Linked DNA regions of Homo sapiens: region 2 is linked to region 1. A link means that fine-mapping ties the variant in region 1 to the expression of a gene that starts in the linked region. Tissue or cell type: whole blood. Region 1 holds a variant in brackets; the other region holds the start of a gene. All regions are shown on one strand. Distances are between the middles of the regions.

Evidence for each region. PIP is the estimated chance that this variant, and not a neighbour inherited with it, causes the effect.
Region 2: it holds the start of RWDD3, and the variant in region 1 is fine-mapped to the expression of RWDD3 in whole blood (TOPMed, PIP above 0.99). The same link has a PIP of 0.9 or more in blood mononuclear cells, lung and monocytes.

The regions. Positions count from the first base shown.
Region 1 is chr1:95,265,534-95,276,350 of GRCh38, forward strand. No RefSeq gene overlaps it. Among named protein-coding and RNA genes, the nearest start is that of RWDD3, 37 kb to the left of the region's middle. The variant T/C (reference allele first, on the strand shown) is at 6,372.
Region 2 is chr1:95,230,008-95,240,824 of GRCh38, forward strand. It overlaps RWDD3 (RWD domain containing 3), which reads left to right and starts at 4,203. Exons shown (of 4, transcript NM_015485.5): 1 at 4,203-4,308. The coding sequence starts at 4,224. TLCD4-RWDD3 (TLCD4-RWDD3 readthrough) reads left to right here. Exons shown (of 8, transcript NM_001199691.1): 7 at 895-987. RWDD3-DT (RWDD3 divergent transcript) reads right to left here and starts at 3,975. Exons shown (of 4, transcript NR_125949.1): 1 at 3,693-3,975. RefSeq lists silencers at 3,944-4,273, 4,484-4,663.

The DNA of each region.
Region 1 (10,817 bases):
TTCAAGTTCCAGCAGGTGTTTGACACTCTTTTCCTTTTGCTACCTCTGTTTCATTTCTCTCTCTGTTTTTCCCTACTTGCCATTCTTGGTGCTTCTTTTAATCTCTGCCATTGTAGAGATTGGCTGCTTACTGATTTCTTTCCTCTTCTCTCTTTTTTGTCTTTTTTCTTCTTTGCTGTCTTCTCTTTCCCTTTTTTGCCACTTCTTCCAAATTTTATGGTTTTATTTTATGGTAGCAGGGGTTAGTTTTATAGCCATCATCATTAATCAGAGTGGATCTTCTTTTAGTTAGTACAACAACTGATCACAACAAATTTCCCTTGGTACAATTACAGGTTTTAGAAATTGGTTTTAAGTTCATGGTTTGCTCCTGAAGGTTGACAGTGCTTGACTGCATAAGTGGGGTGTTGTATGTGTAGAAGTCATAGACCTGAGAACTAGAAAGAACTAAAAAGATCATCTAATCTGCTTTTTTGAAAAAGTGGGGCTACTGGGGTAAGTTACTTAACCAAGGCCACTCATATATCTGATAGCAATACTTGGGAGATAATTATATTAGCTCTTTAGTCCTATGTATAATGCAAAGAGAACTCAAGGAACCAATGAACAATTGTTGTCCAATAGTTATAACCTTTTAGGGAAAATATCTGCTCCATTCTGTTCTGGCACTTTAGAGAGGTGAGATGATTTTCTTCATTCTTTTTTTTTTTTTTGGGACAGAGTCTCCCTCTGTCACCCAGGCTGGAGTGCTGTGGTGTGATCTTGGCTCACTGCAACCTCCACCTTCTAGGTTCAAGTGATTCTCATGCCTCAGCCTCTGGAGTAGCTGGAACTAAAAGCATGCGCCACCACGCCCAGCTAATTTTGTATTTTTAGTAGAGACGGAGTTTCACCATGTTGGTCAGGATGGTCTTGAACTCCTGACCTTAAGTGATCCACCTGCCTCAGCCTCCCAAAGTGCTGGGATTACAGGCATGAGCCACTGCTCCAGGCCAATTTCCTTTATTCTTGAATTGTAAAATTATCCTTACACTTATACTCACAGTGAATTCATAGAGTTTCTTCACAAATAAAAGCTATTTTCTTAACATTGCGATTATTTATGTATGAATACAACTTATAGTACCTGGTGCCTGAAACTTGCTATACTTCTTGTTTCATACATATTAGGAGTTTCAAATAACCAGATGATTTTTTGTTAGGGAGTAAGCATTCCATGTGTCACAAAATCTTATATTTACTTTAAAAAATCTAAATATTTTGCTGTCAGATAAATGAGCATATAATAAAAATCTCCTTTGGAGCTACATTTATGCATTTCATTTTATATAGACAAATAGAATTTGAAACCTGGAAAGAAGCTTAGCGATTTCTGGTTCAACTTTCCAACCAGTGCAGTAATTGTTAAAAATTGTAACTGTGATAGCCATCCACTTCCTGCTTGAAAAACTCCAGAGATTAGTATCACCCTCATGAAGCAGCTGTTGTTACTGGACAGCACAGTAGACAAAAAGTTATTTCTTGCATTCAATCAAAATCTACATTTCTTAACCTATGGCTTTTTATTCTAGTTCTGGCCTCTGGAGCAACACAGAATTAGTATACTCTTCTCTGTATGACAGCTCTTCAAATATTTGAAAGTAGTTATTATGCCTTTTCTTATTCTTCACCTCCCAAGTTGCTTGAATAATTTATCAAAAATTATAGCTTCTCCCACTCACCTGGACATTTGCCTTTCATTACATTCTAATTAGTCAATGTCCCTCTTAAAATGCGGCATCCAGAATTGAATTCTATGTTATAGACATGGTTTAACTAGCCAGAAATACAGTATAACAGTCACAGATAGTGATCTGTGGGTAGCAATTTCTCAAGGGAGCCTCATCCTTGAGATAGACTAAGACTCTTAAAAGAAAGGGACTTGTAGGAAAACACTTGGTAAATTGTAGAGTGCTTTATAAATGAAATAATTTGTTATGTCCCACTTAAGACTTTAAAATACAACAAATAATCAAAGAATGTAATTTTTTTACACATTCTTTATAGCATTTTACACAGGGCTGATTTCAACCGTTGTCTGCATAGGGCTAGTTTTTTTTTTTTTTTTCCCTGTGGAAAAGTAGAAAAACACTTTAAATCTCAGCCGTTATTCTGGGTTACTGGGCCCTTTCTTGAGTTGAACAAATTTTATAGTCTTTTTTAGGACATGATTTTTTGAAACAAATGATAAATGTCATTTTTTTTACCTGTACATACTTATTTAATGAGGTAATAGCAGAATCTTCTATTGACAAGACCTTTTAATAAGTAGAACCACTTTTACATTTGAAGTAGTTTTAAATATGTAACCTATATTGCTTCAATTTTAAAGTAAATTTAAACTTCTCTGATTTTAGCTAATTTAGAGTGGAATGGGAATCTTACCTGAATATGGTTTAATATTGTCATCTAACCATTCATTCATTCTCAATTGCTTACTTAGTATTGATTACATGTTAAGGACTTGAAAAAATTAATAAATTGGTGTTTTTTCTTTCATTATTAACTCTAGAAAAGTTTTTTAAAAGAATAACTTTTTTCTAAGGTGTTTGGCATATATTTGTACACGAACATTCTGATTAAGGATTCTAACATTCTAACAGCAGGTTATAGTTGGCAAATACAAATGTGAATATGAATGTGCATAAATAAAATTGTGAAATATAAATATGTGGCCCCAATGGGATAATCATAATGATGAGCACCCAGCACACTCCCTGGCACATAGTAGATTCTTAACTACTTAATATTCATATTTGCCATATGAATATTACATGTTAGGGGAATATTATTCCTAGTCTTGGCAGTGAACCTGTAATTACAATGGGAGATTGAGTCCTATAGATTTCTGTGCCATTGTTCAAATGAGTGAGACACTTTGGGACTGCACTATATTTTAAGACCTCATATCTCTTTTGGAGGAACATTATTTCTTGGTTGAAAGAAATTACTGTATTTTCTCAAACATGACAATATTGTGGTGGTTGTAGTTTGATTTGTAATGTGTCAAACTCTAAAAAGCATAAATTGTTTAAAAATACATAAATACTCAGAATAAAATCAGTCATTTAGTACTAGCTACATTGGAAAGAAATTTAAGAAAAACCTAGTAAATCACTTTTAAGGATATAGTATTCTAAAATTTATTTAGAAATATAAGAGAAAATTAGAATTCTGGAGAATCATCCATTTTTTTGCACACTTTTAAAAAAATCGTGCAATTTAAATTTTTTTTCCTGTTACAAATCTTGGCAACTAGAGCAATGTAAATTAGAGGGTAATTGCTTTGTAAAATTAGATTTGAAGTCATGTAATTTAAATTTATACTAGTAGGTCCAGAATTTCCCTTTCTATTAAATTTACTTTCCTTTTAATAGTTTAAAAAATTATTATTCAAGTAAGTAAACATTTCCAGAGAAAGACTGTGTTTTCTTTTTAGAGTTTGTGAACTTAAATCTTCTTAAGCTAGGTATTATTTGGCTAATCATACAATTTATACTCATAATAGGCTGAAGAGCTATAAATATTCTAATAGCTTCTAGTGGTTATTGTTTTTGGCAATATGATGTGTGGGCTTTTATATCAATATTAGTTAGTGTTTTTTAAACTTCATAGTATTTTCCTCCAGCAAAGAACTGGCTCTTTTCTGAGTAAGAAGAAAATTTTCGCTTAAAATGAGGCCATTTTGCATATTAATTAGGAGGTCTTTGAACTCTAAGAATAAAATCCATTAATGCTTTGGGTATGGAACAATTATGCATTCAAGGACTTTAATTTTATGCTAATAATGTGACAAGCTTTACATTTCTTTGTTTTGTTTGCATTTTCTAAAGATAATTTAATGCAAATAATCCATCCATATACTGCATAGAGCGAGTCGGATGGTTTCCCTGTAGTTAAGATTGTATCAGCTCTCCTATTATAAATCTCTATTACCCATGGTTTATAATTTAATTGAAAAAACTCACTGCAGGCAGAAATTCAACACTTAGAGTTTCAGGCTAAAAGCAATATTTCTCTTTTTAAAAATTGCCCCCTCTATTTAATTTCATAGTTAATGGAAATATAAGAAGGATGATCCTGGAGCTGATTTTCAACAAAGCCAAACAGATCATTGTCTATAACTAAAATAATTTCTAAATAACAGTAGTTGATATCTTATCAGTGGTCTAATACTACAATATTTAACTAAATAAGAAAAGACAACAGTGAATTCTGTTTATCCTTTTCCTATATGAAAAATACACACAAGGAGAACAAGAAACTTCTGTAAGATCAGACATGTGTAAAATGTATAATTGACAATATTGTCTGAGGTGTTATGTTTTTGTTTGATTTCAAAGTGCATACTTTACTCCTTTTAGTTGATCTAGACTAATGCTATGGAATCTGCTTTTTGTTGAACCAATATAGGAACAGGGCATAGGGCAGGAAGATGCACGCTCTGAAATTCTTCACTTTATCTGTCTTCATCTTAAGTTTATACTTCAATTACCTTGATGGGATTCAGGGGTTAATTAACAGGCATAGCAACTTCAGCAGCCTTACCAAGTAAAACTGAGAAGAGTTTTTAGACCCATGATGGTTTTGTCATCAGCTTTTGAACTCAAATCCTGTAGTATGGAAAGGTTAACCTGCCAGGTAGTATGCAATCTCCAATCAAGAGTAGTGGTTTTATCAAGCCCAATGAGACAAAGAAAATATTAGTGAGTTAGAGCAATATGTACTCTATTTCCCTCAACCCATGAACATTTTCCTATTTAATTCTTACTTGTAACGCTGCATGTGACATATATGCTATAATTTTTTAACTGTAGGTATTATTGGAAACTTGCTGAAAAATGATCTGGCTCTATATATGCAATGTATTGTGTTTCTAAATCAGTTTCCTTTGAGCCTCTAAGGAAAATTATTGAGGACAATAATACAAACTTACATCTCTTATAACACTTCACCATCTACAGAGGGCTTTAATACACATATGCACAAGTGCTTAGATAATAGAGAAAGCAGAAGCTAAAAGATTAAGTGACTTGCTCAAGATGATGAAGCTAACAAGTGGTGCTTAGTGCTAACATTCTGTCTTCAAGCTAATACACCTTTTCCTGTAGCCCAGTGGCTCACTCCTTAGTTCTTTTGGGGGACCTCATATTTTTAACTTTGAGAAATAGAGTCAGTGATACCATCTTAGTTTGTTCCTAATGTTATAATAAAATATCTTAACTAGGAAATTTATAAGTAATAGAAGTTTATTTCTTACAGTTTTGGAGGCTGGGAATCCCAAGATTAAGGGGCTGGCATATTTGGTGCCTGGTGAGGGCTTGCTTTCTGTTTCACAGATGGTGCTTTGTTGATGCATTTTCTAGAAGGGACAAATGCGGTATCCTCACATGGTAGAAGGAATTGAAAAAAAAAAGGCAGCTCTCTGAAGCCTCTTTTATAATAGTATTAATACCATTAATAAGGGCAAAACCTTTAATCAGTCCCCAAAAGACCCCACCTGTTAGACTACACAATGGAGATTAAGTTTCAACATGAATTTGGGAGAGACACAAACATTCAGTACATAGCAGACATCATGAGGAGAATGCCTTGTATTTACTTGAAGTGTGTCAGAAACTATAAGGGAATTTATAAAGTTTCTAGTCAAAATCTTAAAATATTCCATATTATCTTAGATTCATAAATAAATAACTTAAAGCTTAGATAAAATTTATGTACATCTTAAGCATAACCTTGAATGTAAATGGATTAAATTTCTTATTTAAAATATATAGATTGGCTAAATGGATTAAAAAAAAACCCCTAAGACCCAACTATATGCTGCCTACAAAAAACTCATCTCACCAGCAAAAACACACATACACCAAAAGAGAAGGGATGGAAAAAGATACACCATGCAATTAGAAACCAAAAATGAGCAGGAATAGCTATATATATATCAGACAAAACAGACTCCAAGTCAAAAGCTATACAGTCAAAGATGGACATTATATGATAATAAACTGATTAATTCAGCAAGAGAATATTACAACTGTAAATGTATATGCACAAAACATCAGAGCACTCAGATATATAAAGCAAATATTATTAGATCCAAAGAAAGAGACAGACTGAAATACAATAATAGCTGGGGACTTCAACACCCCACTCTCAGCATTGGACAGATCATCTAGACAGAAAATCAACAAAGAAACTTTGGATTTAAATCATGCCACAGACCAAATAGACCTAACAGACATTTATAGAACATTTCACCCAACTGATGCAGAATATACATTTTTTTCATCAGCATGTGGGACATTCTCCAGGACTGACCATATGTTAGGACA[T/C]AAAGCAAGTCTCAAAAATTTTTTAAGAATTGAAATCACGTCAAGTATCTTATTTGAACCATGACAGAATAATACTAGACATCAGTAATAGGAAGAACTTTTGAAAATATACAAATACATGACAATTAATCAACATACTCTTGAATAACCAATGAGTGAAGAAAGAAATTAAGAATAAAATCTACAAAATTTCTTGAAACAAATAAAAATAGAAATATAACATACCAAAACATTTGAGACACAGCAAAAGCAGTATTTAAAAAAATTATTAACTTTGTACAAGTTTAGAAAAGCAGTATTAAGAGGCAAGTTTATAGTAATAAATGCCTACATAAAAACTAGATATATTTAAAACACCGTAAAGATGCATCTGAAGGAACTAGAAAAGCAAAAATAAACTAAACCCAAAATTAGTAGATGGAAAGAAATAATAAAGATTAGAGCACAAATAAAGGAAATTGAGACTAAAAATACACACAAAAAATCAACGAATAAAAATACTTCTTTGAAAATGATAAAAAATTGACAGACTAAGAAAAACAAGAGAGAAGACCCAAACAAATAAAATCATAGATGAAAAAGGAGACATCACAATGAATACCACATAAGTAAAAAATCACTAGAGAGTACTATGAACAACTATATGCCAATAAATTTGAAAACACAAAGAAAATAAATAAATTACTGGACACAGACAACCTAAAAAGATTGAATCAAGATATAGAAAACCTGAACAGACTAAAAACATATAACAAGAGTGAATCAATAATAAAAAGTCTCCTAACAAAGAAAAGTTCAGGACTGAATGGCTTCACTACTATATTCTATCAAACCTTTAAAGAAAAAGGAATAACAATTCTTTCAAACTATTCAAAAAAATTAAAGCAAAGGGAATTCTTTTTGATAACTCATTCTGTGAGGCCAGCATAACCCTGATGCAAAAGTCATATATGGACATAACAGAGAGAGAGAGAGAGAGAGAGAGAGAAAGAGAGAGAGAGAGAGAGACAGAGAGAGAACTACAGGCTAATAACATCCCTGATGAATACAGATGCAATAATTCTCAAGAAAATACTAGCAAAGCAAATCCAACAACACATCAAGAAGATAACACACTATGATCAAGTGGAATTTATTCCAGGAATGCAAGGATAGTGCAACACAGGCAAATCAACAAAATGTCATGGATCACAACAGTAGAATGAAGGTCAAAAGACCATATAATTATATAATTGTCTTAAGTGTTGAAGAAAAAGCATTTGAGAAAATTAAACCTCCCTTCATGATTAAAACTCTCAGTAAATTAAGTATAAAGTACCTCAACATAATAAATGCCATGTATGAGAAACCTGCAGCTAACATCTTACTGAATGAAAAAAAGCTGAAAGCTTTTTCTCTAAGAACTGGAATAAGACAAAGATACCTGCTCTACCATTCTTATTCAATATAGTACTGCAGTTCTACCTTGAGCAATTAGGCAAGAGAAAGAAATAAAGGGCATCCAGTTTGGAAAAGAGGAAGTCAAATTGTCCCTATTTGCAGATGATGTGATCTTATATATAGAAAAACCTAAAGATTCTACCATGCAAATTTTGAACTAATAAACAAATTCAGTAAAGTTGCCAGATACAAAATCAACATACAAAAATTAGTAACATTTCTATATGCCAAGAGTGAAAAATCTGAAAAAGAAACCAAGAAATTAATCCTATTTACAGTAGCTACAAATGAAATAAAATTCTTAGGAATAAATTTAACCAAGGAGGTGAAAGACGTCTACAAGGAAAACTACAAAACATGGGTGAAAGAAATTGAAGAGGGTATAAACAAATGGAAGACATCCTATAATCACGTATCAGAAGAATTAAAAATATTGTTAAAAAGACCATACCAATCAAAGCAATCTGCAGATTCAATGCAATCCCTATCAAAATACCAATGACATTCTTCACAGACATAGAAAAATAAAACCTAAAATGTGTGCAGAACCACACACACAAAAAAAATCCCAAAGAGCCAAAACAATCCTAAGCAAAAAAAACGAAGCTAAAGACATCACATTACCAGGCTTTGAAATATAATACAATGCTGTAGTAACAAAAACAGCATGGTACTGGCACAATAACAGACACATAGACCAATGGAACAAAATAGAGAACCCATAAACTAATCCACGTATTTACAGTCAACTGATTTTTGACAAAGATGCCAAGAACACTTATTGTGGAAAGAGCAATCTCCTTAATAAATGATGCTAGGGAAACTGGATATCCATATACAGAAGAAGGAAACTAGACCCCTGCCTCTCATTCTATACAAAAATCAACTGTAAAAGGGGCAAAGATCTAAATGTAAGACCCAAAACTATAAAATTACTAGAAGAAAACATAGGGGAAACACTTCAGGACATTGGCTTGGGAACAGACTTATTATGAATGAGACCTCAAAAGCACAGAGAGCAAAAGCAAAAATAAGCAAATGGGATTATGTCAAATCAAAAAACTTTTGCACAGCAAAGGAAACAACCAATAGAGTGAAAAGACAACCTACAGAATGGGAGAAAATATTTGCAAACTGTTCATCTGACAGGAGATTTATATCCAGAATATACAAGGAACTCAAACATCTCAATAGCAAAAAGGCAAAAAAAATCTGATTAAAAAGTGGGCAAAGGATCTGAACAGACATTTCTCAAAAGAAGAAATACGAACAGACAACAAAGGTATAAAAGGATGCTCAACATCACTAATAATCAGAGACATGCAAATAAAAAACAACAGTAAGATATCTCACCATGGTTTGGATGTCTATTATCAAAAAAACAAAAATTAAATGCTGGTGAGGATACAGAGAAAGGGAACTCTTACACACTGTTGGTGGGAATGTAAACTAGGGAAGCTACTATGGAGAACAGTATGGGGGTTCCTCAAAAAAACACAAACAGAAGTACCATATGATCCAGCAATCCTGCTACTGGGCATTTATTCAAAGGAAAGGAAATCAGTATATTGAAGAGACATCTGCACCCCCATGTTTATTGCAGCACTATTTATAATAGCCAAGATATGGAATCAACCTAGGTGTCCATGAATGGGTAAAGAAAATGTGGTATATATACACAATGAAATACTATTCAGCCATAAAAAAATAAAATCCTGTCATTCATGGAAACATGGATGGAACTGGAGGACATTTTGTTAAGTGAAATAAGCCAGAAACAGAACATTCAACACTGCATGCCTTCACACATATGTAGAAGATTAAAAAAAAAGTAGATCTCATAGAAGTAAAAAGTAGAATGAAAGATACTAGTGGTTTGGAAGGGGAGGGGAAAGGGAGGAATAGGGAGAGATGTATTAAAGGATTCAAAATTATAGCTAGATAGGAGGAATAAGTTCTAGTATTCTATACCACTGTAGAATAACTATTATTAATAATAATGTATAGTTTCAAATAGCTAGAAGGAGAATATTGAATGTTCCCAACACAAAGAAATAATAAATGTTTGAGATGATAGATACACTAATTACCCTAAATCGATCACTCTAATTGTATGTATCAAAACATCACTATGTACCCCATAAATATGTTATGTGTCAATTAAAACCTACTAAAATCCATATTCATCTAAGCTACACAATAAATCGGTAATAAAATAAAAGGAAGTCATGAATTTACTAGTCTGTCTGATGAAAAATTGTTCTTAATGTTTTGATTATATCAAAAACATTGCTTAGGTATTAAGGTTATAAGAAAAGATTGTGTGAACACATTTGATTGTTCAGTCTTAAAGAGATTTTTGAGACAATAGTAGATAATTTCCAAGGATGTTTTAAGGTAGTAATGGTATAATAAAACAGGGGATACATTAAAAAAACCTCTAGGATTGCTTTGAATCTGGAAGTTCATATTTTTTGTGTGTAGTGAAAAAGCAGACTATTTCTAAAATTTACAAACCAATTCAAATTTCTTTTTTCCATTATAAGAATTTGCATAAGCCATTACTTCTATCTCTTTTATTTGTTGCTTTTGAATTGAATAAATTTAGAATGTAAGGTAGGGTTTACTTTTAAACTTTCTTTTCTTAGAAAAGTTTTCCTGACTCATTAGTTTTGTGAATGTTGTGTAATACTGAGTTCAGGTATTCAACTTGATAACATTTCATGTAACTGAATGGTCAGTCCATATGTCATGTAAGAACCAATAACCCTGTTTCCTTCTACCTTGTCCTGAGCAGACATTATCATCTAAGTCTCTTCATTCTTACAAGTTGAATTTGCTCAACCCTTTTATCTTTTTTGCACTGAAATACTCTTGCTAGTGCCCCCAGAGATCTCTCAATGGTAGCATCTGATGTATGATTTTTAGGCAGTACCTGGAGAGACAGTGAGATGTATTTGAAAGATGATGTGTTTTTTATTTAGACCAGGTGTTGGCAAACTTTCT
Region 2 (10,817 bases), 36 kb before region 1:
CTTTCTCTTTCCCTTCCTACCTTCTTCCCTCCTTCCACTATAATTTTTAAAAAGGAAATCCAAGTCTAATTTTCCCAGTTTTACCTGTGGTTCCTTGATATACATCTGTCTTTCCATTTTCAATCACTTTTGCTAAAATGGCAGAGTTTACTCATGGATAGTCCCTTTATGAGTTTGGAGAAAAGGATATTTAAGTCACACAATCCTCAGCCCTCTTTTAGATAATAAAAACTGGCTACACTAGTAATACAGTGGGAAAATATAATGAATAAGAAGAATCCATTTATAATAGTCACCAAAATTAAATATTGGATACTATTTTAACTAGAAAAACTCAAAAACCCCAATGATACCAGTGACTTGTTTTTATAACATTGAGAAGGCATTGAGCTTTTATATTGGTGGATTTGGGCCATATGGATGGGTTCCCATAAAGCAAGCTGGAACTGTCTTGATACCATTCATGCATAGAAATCAAGCATGGCAGAGTGCAGCCGATATTTTGGAGGGAGTGCAGATTACTTGGACATGATGGAGGCAGATCTTTCCACACAAGGGTATGATCACAGAGCCAGTGGCAAATTCTCATAGATTTTATTTGCTTTTATCATTATGAAAAATAAATTTACGATCTGTATACTGTAACAAAACAAAACAACTATGACTAGTTAACATCCCAGACTTTGTGTACTTTTGGAGGGCTACTGTGTTCCTGAGCATTTCCAAATTATTTCTCCCCTCGGAAATTGTGGGAGGTATATGCTACTCCTACTCTGTTACTTTAACCTACATCATAATATTGAACTTTACACCGCTAAGGAAATGTGATAATTCTTGTATGCTCAGCTTGGTGAAAGAATTTGTAATTGTTTCATATTGTGTTTACTTGTCTAGACCAAAGGCTGTAGTCACTGGAAACATGGACTTGTTTTCATCTCTAACTCTCCACCTCTCCACACTCAGCCTGCAGAGCCCGGCCAACAATCAGTGAGTGTCTAAGAACATTTTGTGAAATGAGTATGCGAATGCAGAAACTCTTTAGACAGAACCAGTAGCACAGGTTCTTGGAGTTCAGATTTATTTAGGAAGTTGGCATTTAAGCCCTCTTTTGGTTGTTTTGGTGGTTCATGAAAGTACTTTTACCTTTCTCAGTTTTGATTTGATATTTTTTCTTATCACACTCCACTCCAGTATTAGGATCCTCACCTTTTTTTGACATAACACTTAACTCTCCTAATACACTTGAAATTGTGCATTCTCATTTCTATGCTCACGTGAGTTTTGACTTAAGATTTCAAACTCAGAGTTGAGTAAGTCTACATACTACTCATGAGAAAGTGAGTAGAACTGTTTCCCCCCAAAATGAAAAGAACTATCTTCTGGGTTATTGGTTTTAACTGAAGGTGAAAGGTTTTAAACCTTTTCCCCTTATGGTCTTGGGGAAGCAACTATTTAGAAAATTTGCTTGTAAAAATAATACTTGTAAAAATAATAATTGTTCTAGCAAATCATACACCTTTGTGTGTGTAAGGGTGAGAAGGGAGAGAGAGAGATGGAGGTAGACAATGCTCTAACTGTAGACATTCATCCTACATTTAAATATTTTGAATTTTCAGTAGCCTGTGAATACGAGGAAACTTATTACATTAAGGTAGACTTTAGAGATTTGACATGTAGCTGATATTTTCACAGTGCAAGAAATATCAAGCTGACATTATGCAGTCTCTGAGATGATTATTTCCAAATGTCAGAGTGCAGAAACTTATTCATGGGACTTCAGTGCCTTAGGATAGTGTCAATTTAAAAGACATTCACATTGACTTCTTTTTTATTTAAACATGCTAAATGAGGTATGAAAAGCAGATTAAGAAATCAACTGAGAAAGGAAGAGCAAAGAAGAAACCTATTGACAAGAAAATTTTAAATCATAGATTGATGTACTCTTTAATCAATTTTCATGGACCTATTGCTGACAGCAGGCTTTAGCAACTGCCTCCTAATCCTTCCTACAGCTGTAATTTTGCTCTTCATGTTATTTCACTCATCTCACTTATAGTGAATTTGGAAAATTAAAAATAAGTAAAAACTATTTGAATATTTTATAGATTTTTTTTTGCTCTTGAGACGGAGTCTCGCTTGGTTGCCTAGGCTGGAGTGGTGCAAAGGTGCGATCTCGGCTCACTGCAACCTCCGCCTCCCGGGTTCAAGCGATTCTCCTGCCTCAGCCTCCTGAGTAGCTGGGATGATAGGTGCTTGCCACCACGCCCAGCTAAATTTTGTATTTTTAGTAGAGACAGCATTTCACCATGTTGGTCAGGCTGGTCCCGAACTCCTGACCTCAGGTGATCCACCCGCCTCGGCCTCCCAAAGTGCTGGGCTTACAGGCATGAGCCACTGCGCCCAGCCTATTTTATAGATTATTTTCAATAAATAAGTCAAAAACCAAATTGTTTGACTTTTCATAGTAACACTGGATTTCGAATTAAAATAACTTAGTAATATTTTAAATTAAAAACGTATTCTTTTGTTCAATCTCTTTAGCAGTTAATTATGAACCTACTGAACTGCTGGAACGTCTGTTATTTTGGAAATAAAGGAGTTTTTTTTTTCTTCAAGCCAATTGGCCATATCAGAGATAACTGCATTTAAATAAGCCTTCATCTTCCCAATTATGTGCTCCTAATTACTCGGGGTCACTGAAATCCCATGGCATCTTCTGAAAAGCATTTTCCCTGCAGTCCATCTTGTTAGGTTTCCTTTCTGTTCCGGGAAGCCAGTATCTTTTCCTTTATCAGATTCCTTTTTTACCAACAGCGGGAATGGTAATGGTGAATGGATGCAGGGTTTTAAAATCAGCCAACTTTGTTCTGACTTCCGTAGGTCAGTGACTGGAGTCACTGCCTAACAACCTAAATTCCCAGATTTATCTCATGAAATGTGATTTCTCATACAAACAAAAGTTGTGAGAACTCCATGAGCAAGACCAGCTGCTTGTGGGGACTGCCAAATTTTAAACTGTTATTTGAACAGCAAAAAGACCAGGCAAACATCCGAGAGACAGACCTAACTGCAGATAAGTCTTGTAATCTTGTTCACTATAGTCAAAACAGAATGGATTGCTTATTCTGTTACCCTATTGGTATTGCTCACATTTTAAAATTTAGGTGCTGGGCTCAAGAATGATAATTTTATTATTAAGCTTCAAGAGTCACATTGTATTGTATGCATTGAATATCACGAAATCGAAAACACTGAAAAGCTAGCGTTTACATTCTTGGATCATACCCCCAAAGGCCAAGGATTCCCACTGGCCGCTTGCAGCAGGGCTGTCTCCTGTGAAGGCAAGAGACAAACGAGGAGCGTTATGACACTTTGCTCCCAGGACTTTGGCGCACAGTTCCCATGAGTCCAGGTCCGTCCAGTCAACATCCTGAAGCCAGGACTGGCAGGTCCTGACCCTCCCTTTTTGCACCCGTAAGGGGAAGGGCCCGGGAATCTGGACCTTGTCTAGAGTCCCGGCGCCAGTACCAGTTCGGAGGGCATCCTGGAGGTTGTTACTAACCCGAGCCTCTTCCAGGCTTCCCAGGCACCAGGGTTGCTAACAGCTCCACGGGGGCGAATAATTTTGTTTATTTTGTTAACTGTGGTTATCTCCAACACTCAGTTCAGACCTGAGCCGGGCAAAGTCTCACCTTGTCTCCTGGTCACTTCCCTGCTTGTTTGTTTCTTCCTAACTCCCAAGTGTCTTTCGCCCAGTTCATCCCCACCTCAGCAGCCCAAGGCTCGGCGGGGACGGTCGGGGTTCGAAGCCTGCAGCTAAACTTAGAGGGTTCAGGCTTTGCTGGGAGGCCTCCCTGTGCTCAGAAGAGCCGGGGGTAAGCTGGGCGGTCGCCTTGGGTGCAGACAGAGGCGCAGGGCCTCGGCCTCCAAGAAAATTCCCAAACCGAGAGGCTGAGCTTCGCGTCTGTAGTTACTGAGCAGGAGCTTCTGGGCGGAACTTCTAAGGGCCCCGCCCGCCCCGTCTGCCCTGACCCTCGCCCGGACTCGCCTCGCCCACGTCCCGTTTCGCTTCGCCCCAGCTCCGTCTCGCCCCGCCCCCGTCCCGCCCGGTTGCGGAGGCGCGGGGCGCCCCCGGGTGGCCGCGGGCAGTGCTGCTCCTGGCCGGTGGAGGCGGCGGCTGCGGCAGCGGAAGGGGAAGCGCTGAGGCGGTGGGGCCCACAGCCATGGCGGAGCCTGTGCAGGAGGAGCTCTCGGTCCTGGCCGCGATTTTCTGCAGGCCCCACGAGTGGGAGGTGCTGAGCCGCTCAGGTGACTACCCGCGCGCGGGAGGGACAGGGCGCCCTCAGGGGCCACCCGCGTTCGCTTTGCGTCTCCTCCCCACCACGGAGCCTGGGCACCCCGCCTGGGCCCACGTATGGGGACCGGGTTAGTTGAATGATGGAATGACACGCCCGGAGGCCGGAGTGGTGTCGCAGCGGGCGGGAGTGTGAGGCGACCCCAGAAACACTAAGAGAGCGGCGCGGCCCACTGGGGCCTCTGCCGCCGGTCCCGCTCCCGGAGCCGGGGGCCCCTGCGTGCGCACCCCCAGGCCCTCCCCCAGCCTCCCACCCCTCAGATCTCACCCTATAAAGAAGCCTGTGCTGACGCCCCCTCGTTGTTCTGTGTCCTTCCTAAGCACTATGCCCTAGGCCCCCCCGAGAGCACTCCCCGGTTCTAACTCTACACGGGTATTTGTAGGTCTTAAGTTGCAGGAGGGCAGGGTCTGTTTGGTAATGACTCCAGGCACCTGGTAGGTAGTAGGTAAATGTTTGTTGACTGAACTTTTTCATTTATCCAGTGCTCAACCTCAACTTTATCTGCATTCTATTTCCAAGTTGATTGCTTTTCTGATACTTTTTTTTTTTTAGGTGGAGTCTCTCTTGTTGCCCTGGCTGGAGTGCAGTGGATCCATCTGGACTCACTGCAGCCTCCGCCTCCCGAGTAGCTGGGATCACAGGCGCGTGCCACCATGCCTGGCTGAATTTTATTTATTTTATTTTATTTATTTTTTATTTTTTAAGACGGAGTCTTGCTTTGTCGCCTAGGCTGGAGTGCAGTGGCGCGATCTCGGGTCACTGCAACCTCCGCCTCCCGGGTTCACGCCATTCTCCTGCCTCAGCCTCCCGAGTAGCTGGGACTACAGGCGCCCACCACCACGCCCGGCTAATTTTTTGTATTTTTTTTTTTAGTAGAGACAGGGTTTCACCGTGTTAGCCAGGATGGTCTCGATCTCCGGACCTCGTGGTCCGCCCGCCTCGGCCTCCGAAAGTGCTGGGATTACAGGCGTGAGCCACTGCGCCCGGCCTTTTTTTTTTTTTTTTTTTTTTTTTGAGACAGAGTCTTGTTCTGTCCCCCAGGCTGGAGTGCAGTGGCGCGATCTCGGCTCACTGCAAGCTCCACCTCCTGGGTTCACACCATTCTCCTGCCTCAGCCTCCCGAGTAGCTGGCACTACAGGCGCCTGCCACCATGACTGGCTAATTTTTTGTATTTTTAGTAGAGACGGGGTTTCACCATGTTGGCCAGGCTGGTCTCAATCTCCTGACCTCGTGATCCGCGCGTCTCGGCCTCCCAAGGTGCTGGGATTACAGGCGTGAGCCACAGGTGCCTGGCCTTCTGATACTTTTTTTTAAACAAGCTCTTGAGGGCTTTATTAGTCATTTAGCCCACATTTATTGAATCCCTGCTGCCTACAGACTTTGTCAGGGTTTCAGAGACACCGCTACCCATGGCCTCTAGGAGCTTACAGTGTAGAGAGGTTCTTTTGACTATTTTTTGATGATAGGTGAAACTTACTGTCCCTGTATGTGGCTTCTATTGAATAAAAAAAAAAGAAAAAACACTGCCATGTATGAGAAAGTGACTCAGTTTTCACTTAGCTTTCAGATACATTATGTACATGTTTGGGGCATGAGATTTATCGTTCTAATGTTATATTGTAGCTACCATTAAAATTGGCTTTCTGACCATAAATTGGTTAACCTTTAAGAAGGTAGTCTAGGCCTGGCGCGTGGCTCATGCCTGTAATCCCAGCACTTTGGGAGGCCGAGGCGGGCAGATCACCTGAGGTCAGGAGTTCAAGACCAGCCTGGCCAACATGGCGAAACCCCATCTCTACTAAAAATACAAAAATTAGCTGGGCATGGTGGCACACGCCTGTGATCCTTGCTACTCGGGAGGCTGAGGCAGGAGAATCACTTGAACCCGGGAGGCGGAGGTTGCAGTGAGCCAAGATCTCACCATTCATTGCACTGCAGCCTGGGTAACAAGAGTGAAACTCTGTCTCAGAAAAAAAAAAAAAAAGTAGTCTAAAAATGGGCTGGATGTTGTGAGAAAACCATTTAAGATTAAGATCCTTCATGATATCCATTGGGTGTGTTATTCACTGAAGGACAGGGAGTTGACTTCCATTTATTCCTTCTTGCATTCATCCACTCACATCCACTCATTGGGCACTGTTATGTTCCAGGCACTATGCACCTATTAGTGTAATGGAGTTGCTTTCTTTTTAGTGCCCAGCCTGACTTGTATCTTTTGAAACAATTGTTTAAAATCCATATGAAGGGGTTTACTCACTTTTAGTGTTTTCTTGTCATCCCTCTTCTGATTGGATAATTCTTCACCATCTCCCTCTCTGTCTCCACTGTTCTCTTTATTGATAATTACTTCTGCCTGAGGCAGCTATTTGAAGAGATCATCAGTTTTCCTAAATTCCTTTATTATGGCTCAGTTGGGAATATCCTGGAAAAATGAACCTGCAATTTCCCATCACACCTTAAAGAACTGGTAATGGTCTGGGTCATTAGTACACAGCTGAGCATAAAACACTGCTGAAGGGTCAGAGAAAACCCAAAAATGTAAGCATAGAAAGAAAACAGTTTCTTAATCTTGAGAACACTGTGAACCCTTTATCTGCTGTTAAATTGAGCATGACTTTCAAGCCATGCCTCCTAATTAGTTTAATTCCATGTTCTGGCATCAATAAGTAATTGAATTATAAAAGAATTCAGTGTAACAACTTAGGACATTTTGTTGCTGAGAGGTAGAATAATTCAGTGATTGAAATGGGGATGTTTGATGTTCACAAGTGGGAATTAAGGGGGTAAGGTAAAGGCCTTTTTTTTTTTTCCCATGATTTTCGTAACATCTTTTTACAAAGTAAGGACTTCTTTAACAGACCACAGTAAACATGCAGCAGACTGCTGGCTACCACTCACCATCACTGTCAGTTTGGGTTGGAGGATACACACTTGATACCAGAACACTCTAAACACTAGTTCTTTTCTGGCCTCCCCCAAATAAGGTTCTCCCTTTTGCCACTGGAATCAGGAGAATGTTGCAGAGGAATTGCATTCCTGGTAACAAGATAACCCAGCAAGACTCAGACTGCTAACCCAAGGATCAACTATTAAGGCCGTAAGATTGAAGAAGCTAAATAATTGGATTCCATTTAGCTGGACTAATTTTATGCTGAGAATTTCAGGGGATTTTATCTGCCTTTTGATCTCTTTACAATGGTTATAGTAAGCTTCTAGTAAGAGGCATAACCATCTCTTAGGGGTGCAAATTAAGTAAGTCCCTACACTCCCATCTACAAGGGAGGGCTGTGGATAGACCACATTAGGGATATTCTGTTTTTCTGTATGCATTGTAGTCAGTCCAGGTGCCAGATTTGATGGGGTGACCTGCCATGTACGTGATACTTGAAATGCATCTTACTTGATGAGGGGTACTATTGGTCTTACTTCACAGAGAAGATAACTGATACTCAGACTGGTTAAATAACCACCAGGCTCCAGGTGTATGGGCCTTTGCACTGCATCATGCTCCTTAATAGAGAGATGGGGCTGTTGCATCAGGAAAATAGTTCTTGGAAAGCAAGGAAATACTTGTGCAGAAAGAGCGATAATGAGCACCCAGAGAAAAGATATGAGTGTGAGCCAACTTATGTTCAGAACAATCCCAAAGGGGAGTGTTTGTGCATGTATGTGTGGATCTATGAGAGGCGTGAGATTGGTATTGTATCACCATTTTCCTGATGAGGAAATTGAGTGACACAGATTATGTGGCCATAGTCAATGTTCGTTATATGTGGGAGTTGTGCTTCTGGAAAGAATCTTACAGATAAAAAAGTTGTAAGATGGGAGAACCCAATATCATGTAATAGGTTTTCACAGAAGCTGCAGAGTGAATTTTTGTATTTTAGCAACACTAATGTTCAAATTAGTTTGGGCCTTCTTATAAAATGAATCATGACTGTCACACATTGACCCCTCTAAATCTGCTCAGCTCGGTTTTATGCTGATTGTCAGTATTGAGCTGACTTCTATAAAACCGATGAGATTGCTACTTTTAGCTTCATTTATTTTTAGTTTTTTTTTTTTTCTTCTGAAGCTACATTGAAACTTATGTAAAAATCCAACTGAAGCATAAAACAAGCACTGGTGTATGCTTGCCTGGGAGCTGCCTGGGAGCAAGAGGAGACAGTCTTGTCTTACCAAGTATGAGAGGGTGCTGAAGGTTTCTTGGTGGTTTTCTTCAAAGTTGTATCTTGAGGATATATAACAATTGCAAAGAAAAAAAACACAAGTGTAGGGAAGGTCAGATGTATATGGTATGTAAACAATTTCTTAATGGGCTCTTAGTGAATCCTGAAAAACCCATTCTCTTAAATTTTACCTTTTTTTAAAAATGTCTTCTGTTATTTGACTGCATTTATAGAGTTTCTGTTGTGTGTTGTATTTTATTAAGTAGAATGAAACCTTAAAAATAGCATTAGTGTGAATTTGGAGTTCTAAAAGTTTAAGTTTCTCTAGTTTGAATTTCTGTTTGGAATGTGTTTAGGAGCTTACTTTCTGATGTTTGTAAGGAAGCATAAGGTTTGAAACCTGTTTCAGTTTGTGTTTTAGGTATGAAAATGATACACTTACTATAAGACAGAATGATTTGGTTAGAAACAACAAGTAGTCAATTTGTATCAACTTGAACAAGAGGGCAAGACCCTTTTGGTAGGGTCTTTAGAATACATGAAAACACCCTTGGACTTATGGAGATTTTAGTTTTCTGGGGCAAGCCTTAAGTTTTCTAGGGCATAGATGTTTGTTGAGAATGATCAGTTTGTGAATTAAGCTTATTAACTAAGGTTCTGGGGGGCTAAGGAGGGGCAGAGATTAGTATTAGATTTAGAGCATAATTATTTTTCTGCTAATCACTGTTTCTAAGCTGTTAATAACCTTAAAGCAGATAGGGGCAACTTTGTTTTCTTTTTTATTATGGCAAAAAAAGAAAACAAAAAATCAGACTTACAGTGCATGTGTCATATGAAAAATTCTGAGGCAGAAAGGAGCCAGTTTAATTGCTTGTACAATGTCAAGCAGATGAGATATGGAAGAGTACAATACATACTTCTAGAGTTTTTGGGAGAAAATGAGTTTTTAAAAGTATGTAATTTTATTGCCACATTAAATACCAGAAGAATGGAGTATGTTATTGGGCTTTTCAGTTTCTTGTAGAGATGACAGTATCATTTTGTATAATCTTATTTTGCAGCTACAGTGTATGTGTGGGTGGGCAGGGGGATTTACCAAGACCAATTAGGAAGAATGCTAATCCTTTCCAATTCTTAAAAGAACTAAGGCAGTTTTCTTCCGAACATATAACTAGTATGACGGTCACAGTTTTCTAAGGTGAAAGTCAGGAGTTTCACCCATTGCTATTCTGTTTGCTGACTAGGACCAGAAAATAACACAGAGAAAAATGAAAATTGGTAAGGACTGACATGGCTGGCTCAGTAGCTTTTCAAGACTTTCCCCCTGGACTACCAACATGTTTCTTTCCTGTGGTTCCCTGCACCAGAGAGGACCCGGTAGGTGTTTATATGGCACAGGTTGGAGAACACTGTGGGTCTCAGGGTTTTGATCAGAAAAGGATTCTTCAAAGTTTGCAGCATAGCATCTTGCTTCAGTGCGGATACATTGCCTTCTTTTGTAGTAAAATCTCTGTCTCCTCCTTATAGGGACCCTTGTGATTACATTCAGGGCTCACCTGGGTAATCCAGGATAATACTCCCCTCTCGAAATCGTTAACTTAATCATGTCTGCAGAGGCTCTCTTGCCATGTGAGGGAGCGTATTCACAGCTTCTGGGAAACAGAATGTACACATCTTTGGGCCCATTATTTACCACAGGTACCAGGGATTTCTGCACCTGTGAGATCCGTGATTACAAGCTACTAGCACAATTCCAAGAGCTGTATGACTGTACAATTTAAAAGTTTTTTGTATCCCCCCATTTTGGTTGTTGTTTAAAAAGAAAATCAAGATATTTCAGTGCTGGAAAAAATGTTAATTTAGTTTAACCACAATAATTCTGGACATGAAAATACCATAAAATAAGTTTGAAATACCATGGAAGTCATTAGGTGGGACTTAGGGAGGAACTGTGGAACTGGACAAAATTTTAGTAGACAGAAAGTTAAGGGCCTTCTTGGAGATAATGGGAGCAAGAGGCAGAGATGGGACACCCAAGACTGAGGACATGGTATAAAATGGGTAGTTGAAGCAAAAAGTGAGGAGAGAGGAAGTCAGAGTGGTAGGCTGGCCCTAGGCGTTGCATGGAGGAATTTGTAATTCATTTCATTCTGGGAGAGTGGTATTGGGATAATTTGGTGTGGGGAGAGGCAGGCGGCGAGGAGACCACTATTGCAGAAGCCAGAGAAAGGCCTGAATTAGGAGGGTGGAAGGGAGAGAAATTCTGGAGGACTTGTGGGATTTGGCAGTTGA